Linked DNA regions of Homo sapiens: region 2 is linked to region 1. A link means that fine-mapping ties the variant in region 1 to the expression of a gene that starts in the linked region. Tissue or cell type: prostate. Region 1 holds a variant in brackets; the other region holds the start of a gene. All regions are shown on one strand. Distances are from middle to middle.

What was found. PIP is the estimated chance that this variant, and not a neighbour inherited with it, causes the effect.
Region 2: CRYBB2 starts here. The variant in region 1 is fine-mapped to the expression of CRYBB2 in prostate (GTEx, PIP 0.91).

The regions. Positions count from the first base shown.
Region 1 is chr22:25,190,728-25,198,907 of GRCh38, reverse strand. It overlaps KIAA1671, which reads right to left. Exons shown (of 13, transcript NM_001145206.2): 12 at 8,124-8,180; 13 at 1,460-6,502. The coding sequence ends at 8,128. Among named protein-coding and RNA genes, the nearest start is that of CRYBB3, 5.0 kb to the left of the region's middle. The variant A/G (reference allele first, on the strand shown) is at 5,083.
Region 2 is chr22:25,215,810-25,223,989 of GRCh38, reverse strand. It overlaps CRYBB2 (crystallin beta B2), which reads right to left and starts at 4,351. Exons shown (of 6, transcript NM_000496.3): 1 at 4,324-4,351; 2 at 2,507-2,586. The coding sequence starts at 2,560.

The DNA of each region.
Region 1 (8,180 bases):
TTAAGTGTCTAACAAAGTATAATTTTGCCTGTAATCAATATCTAATAAGTGATTATTTTATGAATAAAATTATATTGGAGCAAAGGAGTGAGTTAACAAGGTTTTCTTTTGTTGTTGTTGGTATTTGTTTTTGGCTAAAATCCTCAAGTCAGCATAAAACCCAGTTACAGGCCGGGCGCGGTGGCTCACGCCTGTAATCCCAACACTCTGGGAGGCCGAGGCAGGCGGATCACGAAGTCAGGAGCTCGAGACCATCCTGGCTAACACGGTGAAACCCTGTCTCTACTAAAAACACAAAAAATTAGCCAGGTGTGGTGGCGGGTGCCTGTAGTCCCAGCTACATGGGAGGCTGAGGCAGGAGAATGGTGTGAACCCAGGAGGCAGAGCTTGCAGTGAGCTGAGATCGCACCACTGCACTCCAGCCTGGGCAACAGAGCAAGACTCCGTCTCAAAAAACAAACAAACAAACAAAAACACAGTTACCCTGTACCCCCTAGAGGGAGATGGTGGTGAGATGCTGTGGATGACAGCTGGACTCTGAGTCAGGCAGATGTGTGTGACCTTGGACGAGTTCCTGAAGGTCTCAGAGCTACTGTCTCCTCACCATAAATGGAGAACCTTCTCTCCACTTGGGCCATTTTGGGAGGTCATGCAAGCAAAGCACTGCGCACAGTATCTGTTATTTTTGACTTTTATTCCCAGCATCCTGCCTACTCTGGACAGTTCAAGCCAAGGGGCTACTTCCTGCTGAAGGTCACAGAAAGCAGTCGGTTTGGACCCCCTGAGTTGGGATGTAGTTGCCACCAGCTGGGACAGAAGGAGGAAGGCAGAGGTGGGGATGGCGTGGCTCCCCCTCCCATCACATCTTTGAGGACCTTGCAGACCTACTGCACGCTCAGCACTTTGATGTACCACATCTCCCCAATCTAGACTTTTCAACCTTGACACTACTGCCATTTGGGGTCGGGTCATTCTTTGTGGTGGGGTCGGGGTGGGAGCTGTCCTGTGCACTGCAGGATGCTGAGCAGCATCCCTGGCCTCTACTCACTTCCTGGAGCATCTTCTCTCCTTCTTGTGATAACCAATAATGCCTCCTTTCATTACCAGACATGCTCTGGAGGGCACAATCCACCCAGCTGAGAACCACCACCTTAAACTGTTACCTGCAAAAATGTCCTGATCACCACTCCCATTGTATAGCTAAGGAGAACCAATGTTTAAAAGAAATCCCACAGCCAGAGGGTGGCAGGAGGAGGACTCAACCCCTTGTCAGTCTGAATGGAAATCCTGCCTTGTTTCCATGGCCTCCCATTCTGCATGGACACCCTCTCCCAGGACCCCAGCTCTGCCCTCTCGCTGGCTGGCCCACAGCTCAGCACAGGACAGACTGACTCAGCCAGCCCCAGTCAGGGCCTGCATGCATGGGAGACTCTATTCATTCACACATGGACGCACCGACTTCTCCAATGCAACTTGCACCAAAGCTTTATTTGCTATTTTCATAGTCTGAATGCAACATCTTTGTACATGCAAAGGTCATCTTGTTTTATTGCAGTCGACCAGATTTCCAACTGCTCTTCTGTGCATATGAAACTTCTTTACAGTTACAAAATATAAAAGCACTTGTAGACGTCCAATACTCTGTGAGGTCTGGTAAGCCCCATTTGTTTTTACATTAAAAATATAAGTTTTTCTAGATGACTTCTCAGTCACACGGTTAGAGATTCTTTCTGGGACTGGATAAAGTGCCTCTCGTCTGCCTTCCGTTCAGAACTCCTAGAGCTTGTGAATTCCTAAGGCAATTGCAAGAACACCGCAGGCAGGAAGCTTAACTTTCCTACACAAAGAACTCGAGCTCCTTTTCTATCGTGACTCAAAGATCTGAGGAAGGACCCAGAAGAAAGGTTAGGAAAATATATACTATACTTGTGTGTGTGTGTGTCTCTGTGTGTGTGTGTATATATATATATTTCCACGCCCTGCCCCATCTTACAAAGCATTTGGAGGATCACGATCATCTGGGAAGTGCATGACTTTAGGATATTGGTATGATTTAGGAAACAGCACAGTACAAAATTATCTTCCATAACACAATATATTACTTTTGTGACCCCCCCTATTTACAGGATCTATAAGGCTATGTGGAATGAGATTATTAAAAAGCTCAAATTCAGCTGGGCATGGTGGCTCAGGCCTGTAATCCCAGCACTTTGGGAGGCTGAGGCAGTAGAATCACTTGAGACCAAGTTTAAGACCAGCTTGGGCAATATAGTGAGATCCTGTTTCTACAAAACAGATTTAAAAGATCAGCTGGGCGTGGTGATGTGCGCCTGTCATCTAGGCTACTCTGGAGGTGGAGATGAGAGGATTGCTTGAGCCCAGGAGTTGGAGGCTGGAGTGAGCTATGATTGTGCCACTGCATTCCAGCCTGGCCAACAGAGCAAGACCGTGTCTCAAGAAAAGAAAAAAAAAAAAGTTCAAATTCTTTAGAAAACAGCATAATTTGTAGCCCGTGTGATGCCAATAGGAATTGTCAAGGAAGTGCCCGTCCAAGTCATGGAAGATGATGTTATGGCACAGGTGTGAGAGCAACCACTGAAGGAGATTCTGGGAAGGCCAAAGGGGAGGGCGGGCTGAGGGGTGTCCATTTTAAGGGTTAACTTGCCGGAAACCTCAGGCCGACTTTCCAGAGCAGAGGGCCTAGCTTTCTGCCCTTCCCCCTGCAGGAGCCAATTTAGTCAAAAGAAAGCAAACTCTGGATTGGGGGGTGCAAAAGGAGACGCAGGCTGGCAAAGACCTGGCACACTCATGCCTACCAGCTTTTTACGTGGCTCTAAACTTCCTGAGCCCACCCAGAATTCCAACTGGGTGAGTCCTAGCAGCCTCTTAGCACACAGCAAGAGTCCCCCACTCGCTAATGGGACCGAGCCCAAAGCAGATCCCCTTTAGATGTGGAGTGGGTCCTATCCCTCCAGCCCCTCGGAATCATGATGCCATGGAACTTCGGCTTTTGTGTTTTAACACACGGTGAGGGGGAAGGCACATTCAGAGACCACAGAATGTCTCCCCATCACTTACTCTGGTTTAAATATCTACACTGGGGAGGAGGGATTTTTACAGTTTGCAATTACGACTAGTTCCAGGAGCCATCTGGGGGCATTATAAAGAAAAATTTTAAAGCATAGATCAACAAAGCAGCTATCAGCACCAGGTTGGAGCAGCTAAGGTCTCTTTTAGGAAAATCATGCTAAGGGTCTTTCTAAATCCTTTGCCCAGCCTGTAAAGTTTAAAACCACAGGCTCATGCCTATTTCTCTTTTGGCTTCTTGGTGATACCCTTAGTTGGCCTCCCTTCCAGGGAGGCACAAAGGCAAACACAATTGTCTGAAACCACATGATTTGGCGCGTCCCCCTGGAAAACACCGCCATCTGATTGTCCTTTCCCTGAATCCTGAGGCTATCAGGTCAGGTTCACTCAAAATCCCAACATCCTAAAGACCACGAGGTTTCTCTTTCACCAGAGTTTCTCCGGTGGCATGGAGTAATCCTCCACAACACTGATTTCTGAGGCCTTGTCATGGATTTTCAAAGGCCAAAAGCCTCTGTTTGATTAGGCAAAGGACCATGAAGAAGGGTATCTACTGAAGAGGAAAAAGATACAGGCTTCTCAAAAGATCAGCTGTTAAAATGCTGATGTGCAAAGGGGTGGTGGAGGTGAGGAGGAAGAGAAATGAGGGGGAGAGAGATTGTACATATAGAGGATTTTCCATTCTGCATGAAACTCTCATTGAGGACAGCCAAAGCCCCAGGGGAGGAGGGTTAGATTGAGGAGCGGATGACTCCATTACACACAGATGATTAAGGCATATTAAGTGAGTTTAAAAAGAAGACAGATTTCCAAAGGGGTCTCCAGGCAAAGTCTAGAAACTAGCATACAACGCCTCCTTGCTTAGCCTCAAAGAGAGCTCACTCCATTTAGAATGGGGATAAGTAAATCACCCATTTGCCCAGCTATCTGCAAAGGCTCCCAATCATCAGTTACTTCTAACTTCATTGCACTGATCATAAGCAGGTCTCAGAGGTCATGGCAGAGCCCACGTGAAAGAGGGTCGCTCTTGACCCACTGTGATTGTCTTCCCTGTGGTGCTGGAGGAGACAAGGTTATAGAAAAATAAAAGGAGGTGAGGAAGATCTTCAGGGCTTGCCCTAGTCACTTTCAAGGAGGGTGAACTTTGTATATCCTAATTAACATAGAATTAATTGATTATTTTTCCAATTAAGGTATGAGAGATTAGGGAAAAAAAATCTCCAGGTCAATCTCATTTTCAAGTGTGTTTCATTCCTGTCTGATATCCTTGAGCTGAGACATGACTAATTAAGAATTGAGAGTTTTGCATGAGGACCATCAATATATGTAAGAGCAGGTCCTTTCCTACTGCTTGAGATGGTACCAAGGGGTCCTTTCCACCTGAAGGAAAGAGAGACAGCAGCCCAGATAAGAAGTCAGGATCAAAAGACTAGGAATGTGTTTCAGGCCAGGTGCAGTGGCTCATGTCTGTAATCCGAGCACTTTGGGAGGCTGAGGAGGGACAATTGCTTGAGCCCAGAAGTTCGAGACCAGCCTGGGCAACATGGTAAGACCCTTGTCTCTACAAAAATATTTAAAAATTAGCTGGTCATGGTAGCATACACCTGTAGTCCCAGCTACTTGGGAGGCTGAGGTGGGAGAATCACTTGAGCCCAGGTGTTAGTGAGCTATGATCGTGCCACTCCACTCCAGCTTGAGCAACAGAGTAAGACCTTGTCTCAGAAAAACAAAACAAAACAAAACACTAGCAGGGTATTTTTAAAGGGGATCCTATTGACGTTGAAAGCCATAAGATCAAAATTATTATAAAACATAAACTGGATCTTTAAAAAAGAATTCGACTGAAGCAGTTGCAGGCATGAATCCCCAAATGGCCACGGAGAACTGATGACTAATTCAGGGAATGAAGAGAAAACAAACTATCATCAGCAGGGCCAAACTCCCAAACCCAGATGCATGAGGCTCCCAGGTGTAAAAGGCTGGGTGGGTGACATG[A/G]TCTGGCAATTGCTCATCAGTAACCAAAGCTCATCGAACAGGACACAAGGTGGGCTCCGGCCTCACAGCCCTGCAGTTGCTGTCCCTGGTGCTGAACAGCAACTGCCTCACCAGGGCCCAGGTGTTTATCCTAACCTAAAGAAACAGAGGATTTCTATCCATGCCCATCCACCCACTAAGACAGAGAAGAGGGGTAAAGGAAGATGAGGGAGGAAGCTGAGACAGAGAGACAAATGAACTCCTGAGAGGTAGCCAGGGAGAAGGAAAGCATGTTTTGACAGCATTTGCAAATAATGGATTCATCAAGAAAGATGAAGGAAAATGAGGTGAGCAAAAGCAAAAAGTACCCTTCATTCATGCATCTGTTCTGAGGCCAGTTTGGAACAACTCCTCCATGCCAGCAGCCCACGTCATGTTCAAAGAAGACTCTGGAGAAAAAGATTACTAGGGCAGGTCTGATGATTCATAAGCAAAGGCACCACCACTTGGGCTGCAGTTTATGAACCCTTAAGGCCAAGGGGCAAAGGTCACCCTACCGAAACCAGAGCTCAAATGAAAAGAAGCCATGGAAATAAATACAAGAGTGACAATTATAACTTCTAAACAGCTTGGATAGGGATAAGATAACCTGAGGTGACTGGATACTTCAGAACAAATTATTCGCACATCTTTCCTCCTGTCCTTTAACGTAAACACATATATACCTATCAAGTTTCAAAGAAAATTAGCTGAATTATTGCTTTATCGCCTTCTAAAGCAAACAAAAATGACATACAATAACATAGGCCAACGATGCACACAGCCCCACTAGAAAGAGAAATACACATAATCAGGGAGAGTATGTTTAAAAATTGGAACTGCTGATTCCTCAAGGGGAAGAAGGAACTCACCAAAAAAAAAGAATAGAAAACCTCAACCCAGCGGTAATACCCTGCACCGAGACTACAGCAGAAAATGAACAGTTTGATCTTCCTTGGAAATGTCCTTCCAAAAAAAGACCTGCCCCGGGGTCGGGTGAGGAGGTGCTTTCACAAATGCAGGTGTTTTTCAGAACCTGGGGAGACAATTCCAGCCTCACACTGATGTTCTTGGAGCTGATGAAGGTGTCTAAAATAGGTAGAAATGCAAATTTTTACATAAAAAGCAAAACCACCCACATGGACGTTTCTGGGCAGCCTGGCTCCTTTCCCAGCCTGAAGTGCTGTCTGGGGAGATGAGCGAGTGCTCCTGGAGGTTGGGTCTTCCCGTCTGGATCCAGGGAGAGCCTGGCGAGGACAGGGGCACTGGATAGCGTTCTCAATCCAATGGGAAGGGCCCAGGCACGTAAGCGTTGTGCAGGAAGAAACGGCAGCAGCTCGGCCTCGTCTGCGGGTTCTGATGGTTAAGGCTTCTGTTACGTAGATGTGGCAGTGTTCCCTGCCTGGAGAGGAAGGGACAGTACTGGTGTCAGCAGTGGGAACATTTGGCTCCATTGCTCTCTACCCTCAGTCCTTAAAATCTCACCTGATATTCTCCAATGAAGTCACCCCTAGAAGCCTAAGGTCACAAAAGAGATTTTTTGTGTTGGGTGGAAAGGGGAGGTGAGGAGGGTGGCAGGCATGGAATACAGTGAAACCAACATGAAATTTAGGGTCAGGTCAGGGTTCCAGTCTCAATTCTGAGCCTCAGTTTCCTCAAAGGGGTTGCTGGAGGCTTAAATGAGATATTACATGTACTGCACCAAACACAAAATAAACACAGGTCCCGATCCCTTATCCAAATCCCTTGAGCATAGTTTTATTTGGGAATTTATAATTTTTAGTATTTATTATACATACACACATGCATCATACATAATCATGTAATATATACACATATGTATATATATACATATGTAACACCACCATAATCAAGCAGATAATATTCCTGCAGTGTATTATGAACATTCATATAAAGTGGGGAAAATAGAGTCAAAGTAGAATTATATTCACTCAGGTCAGGTTTTACCACTGACTTAGGAAAAAGCTTTGTTTTGCAGGGCTTTCTGGAATTTGGCTTTGTGGATAAGGGATGGTGAGTCTCTTGTGCTCATCACATCAACGCTGACTTTGATGGTGCACGTACCATGAGCTCCTATACTGAGGAGAAACAGGCAGCACTCAGTCAAGCACCACAGGTGCATTCTCAGTGAGCCCTGAGGACAACTCGGTGGTGTGGACACTGCTAACCCATTTTACAGATGAGGAAACTTAAGTTCATGATGTTCAGTCATTTGCAACTTACACCAGGGCCTATCTAATCGTAATTTTTAATGTATATTTTTTCAAATTCATTTTTAACTACATAGGTTGTATATGAAACACTCCCCCTATAAAAACTGTAACCATTTCTGGCCGGGCACAGTGGCTCACGCCTATAATCCCAGCACTTTGGGAGCCAGAGGTGAATGGATCACCTGAGGTCAGGAGTTCGAGACCAGCCTGTCCAACATGGTGAAACTCCATCTCTACAAAAAATATAAAAATCAGCTGGGCATGGTGGCAGGCACCTGTAATTCCAGCTACTTAGGAGGCTGAGGCAGGAGAATCGTTTGAACCCGGGAGGCAGAGGCCGCAATGAGCCAAGATCCGAGATTGCATCATTGCACTCCAGCCTTGGTGACAAGGGCGAAACTCTGTCTCAAAAAAAAAAAAAAAAAAAAGTAACCATTTCTAATTAAGCTAACCTCTGATGTCCCCGCCCTTTTGTTTTATCAGAGGGGACTGTGATGCAGCTAGAAGGGTCAGCCAAGTGCATGAGACCAGAGCCCCAGTCACCTGCCTCCTGGCCTGGTACCTTTCACCCACTCCAGGCAGCCCAGCTTTGTTTTCTCCCTAAATGGAAACAGACATAACCATCCTCTTTACAGGAACTCAGAACACCCCCCACCCCTCATTCTTCCCCTTACACAGCCTCTTTCCTTGGGTACAACAGCCCCAGTCTCTGAAGCGTGGCCCCCCTGAGTTCCCCATTCCTGTGACTGCAGGGCTCTTCCCAGGTTCCCCAACAGAGCCCCTTCATACCTGGTCAAACTTGGTTCTCATAAAGACTTTGCCTCTTCTTGGATTTCAATTCCTTTA
Region 2 (8,180 bases), 25 kb before region 1:
ACCACGCCCAGCTAATTTTTTTTGTATTTTTTTAGTAGAGATGGGGTTTCACCAAGTTAGCCAGGATGGTCTCGATCTCCTGACCTCGTGATCTGCCTGCCTCGGCCTCCCAAAGTGTTGAGATTACAGGCGTGAGCCACCGCGCCCGGCCTCCAGTGAGAATTTTGGAGGCAGAGGTTTTCCAGCCACACTTCCCCAGCAAACTGCCCCTGGATGAAAAGATGGGCTCAGGTCAGCACACTCTCAGTCGGGGCAGCTACAGAATCGACACGGTCAGCACAGGCTGGGTAAACATAGCCCTCTCTCCCAGGCCTGGGATTAGCCACACAAAGAAAGGGAAAGGCACAGGGCTTAGAGGCAAATTCCACGGGCTCAATCCAGCCTTTACAGTCAGTGACCCAGCCCTTTACGGTCACTGACTCGGCCAGAGATAGGGTCAGGAGACAAGGGCTCCAATGTGTCCTCTGTTACATCCAGTTGCACAAACCTAAAAAGCAATTCAATACTCTGGGCCTCAGGTCCCTCATCTGTCAAATGGGGACTCAAGAATGTGGAAGTTCGGGGCTAGAGTTTATTATTACCCTGGCCTGGGAGACCAGGGCTTGTGGGTGGTTAGCACATAGTATTTGCGCTGCTTGTGGGAGACATAATTATGTTAATTAAAAGACATGCTACAGATCCCACGTGAATAAGTGGAAGAGCTGAAATTGAAGCCCAGACTTGTCTGATGCAGATGAAATTGAAGCAGCACTTTGCAGACTCTAACCTGTGCACACAACACTGGGATCTTGATCAAATGCAGTTTCTGAGGTAGCAGGCCTGGGGTGCCCACCTGAATAGGGGTAGGCAGGTGAGGAAGAGCAGTTTCTCCATGCATTTGAAAGCCCAGAAGCTCAGAGGACCCAGGAGCTCAATAGCGTTGTTATTAATCAATAGAGTAGAGGGCAAAATTTTACAAATTATCCAATCCTTTAAGCCTGCACTGTCCCACACAGCAGCCATTAGTAACATATGGCTACTGAGCACATGTAATTAGTCCATATTATTACTTATACTGTGCTATAAGCGTAACATACACATCATATTTTGAAAATTCAGAATGGAAAAAATAATGTAAAATATCTGCCTAATAATTCTTATATTGATTATACATTAACATGCTCATCTTTTGGATATATTGGGTTTCATAAAATGTAATATGAAAATTAATTTCACCTATTTCTTTTTACTTTTTATGATGTGGCTACTAGAACATTTTGCATTACCTATGTGGCTCACATTATAGGTCTAGTGGACAGAGCTTCTTGCTTTTTTCCAAACTCACCCAGTTCATTCCCACCTCGGAGTCTTTGCGCCTGCTGTTCCTTTTGTCTGGATGCTCTCATCAACCCTGACCCCCATTTTTCATTTTTCTGTGGAGATGGGATCTCACTATGTTGCCCAGGCTGGGCTCAAACTTTTGGGTTCAAACAGTCCTCCCACCTCGGCCTGGCAAAGGCACCCCCAATTTTCATATAGCCGCTTCCTCACTTGACCCAGGTGTCTGCTCAAAGTCAGCTCCTCAGAGAGACCCTCCTGGACCACCTGAGCTAACACAACCACTGTGACTCTCAGGAGCCCCTTCCCCTAGTTTACAATTGTTTGTAGCACTTCTCACTACTGGAAATCATATATTCATTTATTTATTGTCTGTCCTTCTTCTGGAAAGTAAGCCCTAAAAGGGACAGATTGGGGTGAGCAGGTGAGGGGCTGTATCTGCTCAGGCTTCCCTGGCCCAGGAGGCACTGAGTCAGACAAAGGGGCCATTCCTGAAGGAACCTGTGCCCGGGGCTACCAAAGCAGGGAGGCACAGGAGGGCAGTCAGGTGGCCGTGCCTAGATAGAGGTTTGAGGGCAGACTGGGTGTGACAAGCCTCTGACGTTGGGATAAGATCCTGCCGCCCTTGGGTGGACAGGTGGATGAGAAATCAAAGGCGGCATTATTTGCTGGTGTTAGGTGGATGCGCACCCCAGGCCGGGTGTTAGGCTGAGCCTGGTTTCTTTGGCTCTCACAACTTCCCTGTGCAATAAATCTGACTCCTCCTTTTATAGAGATGGAACTGAGGCTCAGAGGGATCAAATAATTGGCCCGGATCACACAGCAGGTGCAGAGCCAGGACTCACACCCACCTTCCATCTACTAATCCCATCTCTGACTGAGAATGAGGGTCTGCTCCAGTTTCAGGGAGCCCTGTAGACAATAGGGTGTGGCAAAACAGGTAAGGGAGAGAGAAACTGAAGTCTCCAAAGCCAGAGGCTGGTACTGGGAATCCCAGCATGCCAGCTATGGGCTGGGGAGGGACTTTCAGTATCAGCTCCAACTGTGTGGGTAGAGGAGACTGAGTCCCAGAGAGGGGCAGGGGTCGAGAGGGGGTACCCATGAAGAAAGATGCCAAGCCCATTTTACAGAAGGGCAACTAAGTCTGGGGGAGGAGCATTGCATGCCCCCTCCTCTGAGAGGTACCCACCTTGGGGTTGAGGGACTGTGGCTTGCCCGCCTGGGTCTGGTGATCTGAGGCCATGGTGGACTGTCCTGTGCAGGAATGACCTGGAAGACATGGGAAGCAGCAGTGAGGACCTGGAGGGGCCACTGGCTTTTTCACTCTGTGGGGCCTTGAGACCACTCCCCTCTGGCCCCAAACATTCTCTTTTTCTCCTGGTTTCAGACTGTCCCAGAGCTGTGGGGTCCGTAAGCAGCTACTTCAACTTCTGTCCTTAGCTTCATTTATTTCTATCCAGGCCAGCTGCAGGAGGAGGGAAAAACGAGGTCTACTCAAAGAAAGAGAGCAGTAATAAACTAGAGCTTAAATGAGGTCCAAAGTGGGTTCCCAACACTCAACCCCAGACAATGGATACCACACAGAATATAGAATGGTCAATCCCAGAACTTCTGCCTTTATGCAGTAATTTCTTAAATAAAATTGTGTGGAACAAACAAAACCTATGCATTGGCTGTATTTGGTGGTGTGGTGGTGCCCAGTTTAGGAACTCACAAAGTTCCCTGTTCCCCTGCTCCTTCTCCCACCCTCTCCCTGGGACTCCTCTCCCCATCCTGGTACCTAGATTTCTCTTCTCTGCCACTGGTTTTACTCCCCCATTAGTGAAATCATCTGATACAGAACCCACATTACAAGAAAGAGAAGAAATGGGTGCGACGGTAGAAATCCAGGCACTGTGGCAGGCAGCAGGGTAGACCTGCCTTAGCTAGTGAGAACATCAGAAAAGCCTGGAAAATTGTCAGCCTCTTCCCCCTTCCTGCAGAAGGGGTGGTCAAACCAGGCTGTGTTTCCCCAGGGGTAAGAGAGGAAGCCTGGCCTCCCTCTTCAGAGATAACGCCAGCTTCCAGAAGCCCCTTCCACATGAAAGGCCAATACTGGATGTTTCCCAGGAGGAAGAAATGCAGTTAAGCACCTTGGCAGCCAAATCTACTGCTCTCCCGCAAGAAACCAGCCCTCTGGGCTTGTCAGAGTGCCTGAGGTCCTGCCATATCACTTCCCAGTCCTGAGTGTTCACAGACTGAAGAAGCTCAGTTGGTCCAGTTCAGGAGCAGTCTCTGCTGCCTGCCAGAATTGAGACTCTGGGCAGGTCTCATCCTCTCCCTATGCCTCAACTTCCTGTTCTATAAAATGGGGACAGTAATGATGTCTAATAATACCTGTGAACAGGTTGTGAGGATTCAATTATGTAATGTATAAAACCGGAAGCACTTGGCCGTGGTCCCAGAACACACTCAGCATGCAGCAAATGGCAGCAATTGTGGCATTATTAGAGTCATTTCTACCATGCTTTAGTGGCATTGAAATCACCTGTTGCTGGGACCTGTCACATACCTGTGGCTGCATCCTATCCCCTAGCACTCCCAGAGGCTAGGCACAGAGTGGGTGCCCCCTAATTGCAGATGTGGAGGAAAACTGACTCACCCACCTAGAAACAATGCTGAACTGTCACTGGTTTGATTCTTGCAAAACCCTCAGTTACATTCTCCTCCTCAGCGACTGGCGAAACAAGGATGCTGATAGTCTGTTTAATATTAATAATAAAGAACATTGCCCCAATGCCCACTGTGTGCCAGGCACTGTGCTGGATGATCCCCTAACTTCTCTTGAATCCTTACAATAAAGAAGGCTTTTTAACCCCCTTCCCAGTTACCAGAAAAGAAAACTGAGGCTAACAGCATTGAAGTCTCTGCCCAAAGTCACTTGTCAGAATCTGGGTGCTCCCATGCTTGCGGACAGGGGTGAGGATGAGAGAAAGAAGGGAAGACAAGCAAGAGAGGCAATCTTACCAGTGACACCAGCCCCTGCGAGTGCCGTGAAGCTCGGCCAGCGGGAGGTGGCATTTATACCTTCCCCAGAAGTGCCGGTGCCAAGATGAGTGACCGCTGTGCTCCTGCGAAAAGCAGGGTGAGAATGCTGGATTAAGCTCTCACCAAAGCTCGGGTCAGCAAATGCCCACAGACATTGTGTCTCTGCACAATAATGTCATTAGCTTTCAGATTCGGCCGCGCCAGGGCGGTCAGGCGGCTGGGCAAGGAGATGCCCGCTTTGCATGCATCAGCCGTCCGGCTGCCAGGGCCAGGGGTACGCTGGGTTCACTGGTACGGTCAGTCAGGCCGTGAGGCATGGCAGACAGAGGAACATCTCAGTGGGCCTGGGGAAGAACAAGTAAAGAAGGGTGGTTTGGCAGAGTCTGGGCTTCATTCATCTACCCATTTATTCATTCAACAAATATTTGTTGGGCATCCACTTGGTGACAATCTCTGTTCCAGGGGAGTGTCAGGAAGAGGACCTACGCCAGCCCAGGCCATTCAGAAAAGCTCCTGGGAGGTAGCGCATCCCTCAGGGATGGAGAAGAGGAAGCCTGGGAACAGGGTGGGGGGACAGTTCCAAGCAGAAAGGGTCCATATACAAGGAACCAGCATGGTGTATTTCAAGAAGACCTGAAAACAGGTTAACAAAGCTAAAGCATGACATGTGACAAATAGGGCCTGTGCCAGGTGGCCAAGGTGGGCAGGGCCTGATGTTGCAGGGCCAGGGAGGCCAATTATGGAGAGTGCATTTTATTCTCAAGGCCCCTGGCTGTTTCTCTTTCTTTTCTTTCTTTCTTTCTTTCTCTTTCTTTCTTTCTTTCTTTCTTTCTTTCTTTCTTTCTTTCTTTCTTTCTTTCTTTCTTCTCTCTCTCTCTCTCTCTCTCTCTCTCTCTCTCTCTCTCTCTCCCCTCTCTCTCTCTCTCTCTCTCTCTCTCCCCCTCTCTCTCTCTCTTTCTTTCTTTCTCTTTCTTTCTTTTGAGATGGAATCTCACTCTGTCACCCAGGCTGGAGTGCAGTGGTGTGATCTCGGCTCACTGCAACCTCTGCCTCCCAGGTTCAAGCGATTCTCCTGCCTCAGCCTCACCAGTAGCTGGGACTACAGGTGTGCGCCACCAGGTCCAGCTAAATTCTTTTTTTTGCTGTATCTTGTTAGAGACAGGGTTTTGACATGTTGCCCAGGGTGGTCTCAAACTCCTGAGCTCAGGCAATCCATCCACCTTGGCCTCCTAAAGTGCTGGGATTCCAGGCATGAGCCACTGCACCCGGCCTGTTTCTTAACCACTGTCCTAGAGTGAGTTGCTCTTAGATCCCTACCACTGGCCCCATCGCTGCCACATGGGTGCCCAGCCTTTACTCACATTTCTTTTCTATTTTTTTTTTTTTTGAGATGGAGTCTCGCTCTGTCGCCCAGGCTGGAGTGCAGTGGCACGATCTCAGCTCACTGCAAGCTCTGCCTCCCGTGTTCACACCATTCTCCTCCTTCAGCCTCCCTAGTAGCTGGGACTACAGGCGCCCGCCAACACGCCCGGCTAATTTTTTGTATTTTTAGTAGAGACGGTGTTTCACTGTGTTAGCCAGGATGGTCTCGATCTCCTGACCTCATTATCCGCCCGTCTCGGCCTCCCAAAGTGCTGGGATTACAGGCGTGAGCCACCGCGCCCGGCCTTTACTCATGTTTCTTTAGTGCACACACCTTCCTTGCAGCCCAGGCTGTGTCTTGATCCAATCTGAGGCTTGGAGACTGGGTCAAGTATACCTGCTTTCCCCTGTCTCTCATTTTCTTAATGCACATATGCATGCACACGCATGCACACACACTACACACACATGCCCCAGCCCCCTAGCTGGGCTTTTCCTTTTGCAGCACTCATCACTACCCAACATTCTGTTACTCATTTATTTTCTGTCTTTCCAATGAGAAGATAAGCACCACAAAAGCAAAGAAGTTGTCCCCCTGGTTTACCATGGTATCTCCAGAGCCCAGTGCCTGACGCATAGTAGGTACTTGTTTTAAAATCCCAGGGCTGGCCGGGCACAGCGGCTCACGCCTGTAATCCCAGCACTTTGGGAAGCCAAGCCAGGCGGATCACCTGAGGTTGGGAGCTCGAGACCTGCCTGAGCAACATGGAGAAACCCCGTCTCTACTAAAAATACAAAATTAGCCGGGCATGGTGGCACATGCCTGTAATCCCAGCTACTCGGGAGGCTGAGGCAGGAGAATCACTTGAACCCACGAGGCAGAGGATGCAGTGAGCCAAGATCATGGCATTGCACTCCAACCTAGGCAACAAGAGCAAAACTCTGTCTCAAAGAAAATAAATAAATAAATAACATAAAATAAATCCCAGGGCTGCTGTAATAAAGTGTCACAAACTAAGTGGCTTAAAAACAACAGAAATTGGGAATGTAAAATGGTGTTGCCACTACGGAAAACAGTGTGGCTGTCTCAAAAAAAAAAAAAAAATCCAACATAGAATTACCATATGAGCCAGCCATTCCACTTCTGTGCACGTGCCCCAAAGAATTGAAAGCAGGGAATTGAAGAGATATTTACACACCCATGTTCATAGCAGCATTATTCACAATAGCCGAAAGATGGAAACCACCCAAATGTCCATCAACGGATGAATGGATAAACACTATGTGGTCTATCCATACAATGGAATATTATTCAGCCTTAAAAAGAAAGGAAATTCTGACTCCAACATGATGAGGTTTGAAAATGTTATGCAAAGTGAAATAAACCAGACACAAAAGGACAAATATTGTATGATTCCACTTACATAAGTTACCTAGGGTAGGCAAATTCATGGAGACTGGAAGTAGAATAGAGGTTACTGGGGGCTGGGAGGAGCGGGGAATGGGGAGTTATTGTTTAATGGGTACAGAGTTTCTGTTTGGGATGATGGAAAAGCTGGGGATGGATAGTGGTGATGGTCCCATAACAATGCCACTGAACTGTACTCTTAAAAATGGTTAAAATGGTTAATTTTATGCTATGCAGTATTTTACCACAAAAATGTCCCCCAAAAAACCCCAGAAGTTTATTGTTGTGTAATTCTGGAGGCTGGAAGCCTGACATCAAGCTGTCAGCAGGGCCATGCCTGCTCCAGGGGTTCTAGGTGAGGGTCCTTCCTTGTCTCTCCCAGCCCTTTGTGTTTGCCGGTAATTGTTCATGTTCCTTGGATGGGAGGTGCATCACTTTAATCACGTGACTGTCTTCTCCCTGTATCTTCACATCATCTTCCCTTAGTGCATGGCTGATTCTATGTCTAAATTTCTGTGCCTATAAGGATACCAGTCATGTTGGCTTAGGTGACTTCACTAGGCAACTTCACCCTGATGACTTTGTTTCAAATTGGTTCCTTCTGTAAAGACCCTATTTCCAAATAGAAGGTCACATTCTGAGGTACTGGGGGTTAGGACTTTGGAATATCTTTTATGGACACAGGTCAGCCCATAATAGACCTCAGTTAATATTTGTTGAGTAAATGAATGGATTCAAGACCTGGCTGTGTCCTTATAAATAAGAAAGAATTCCTAACATTTCGATTGTATCAGAGCTTGACATGAGTCAGGCACTGTCCATACTCATCTTTTTTTAATCCTCCCAACAAACTCAAGATGTAAGTATTGTATTTATTGATCATTCCATTTTATAAAAGAGAAAATTGAGGCTCAGAGAGACTAAGCCACTTGCCCAAATTTGCACAGCTAGTGAGTAGTAGGACTAGGCTTTATGGATTAAGCCCTGAAACTGTCTGGTTCCATTAATTCAATCCTCACAACTATCTTTGAAGTAGGTATTATTAATGTCCCCTAATACAGATAAG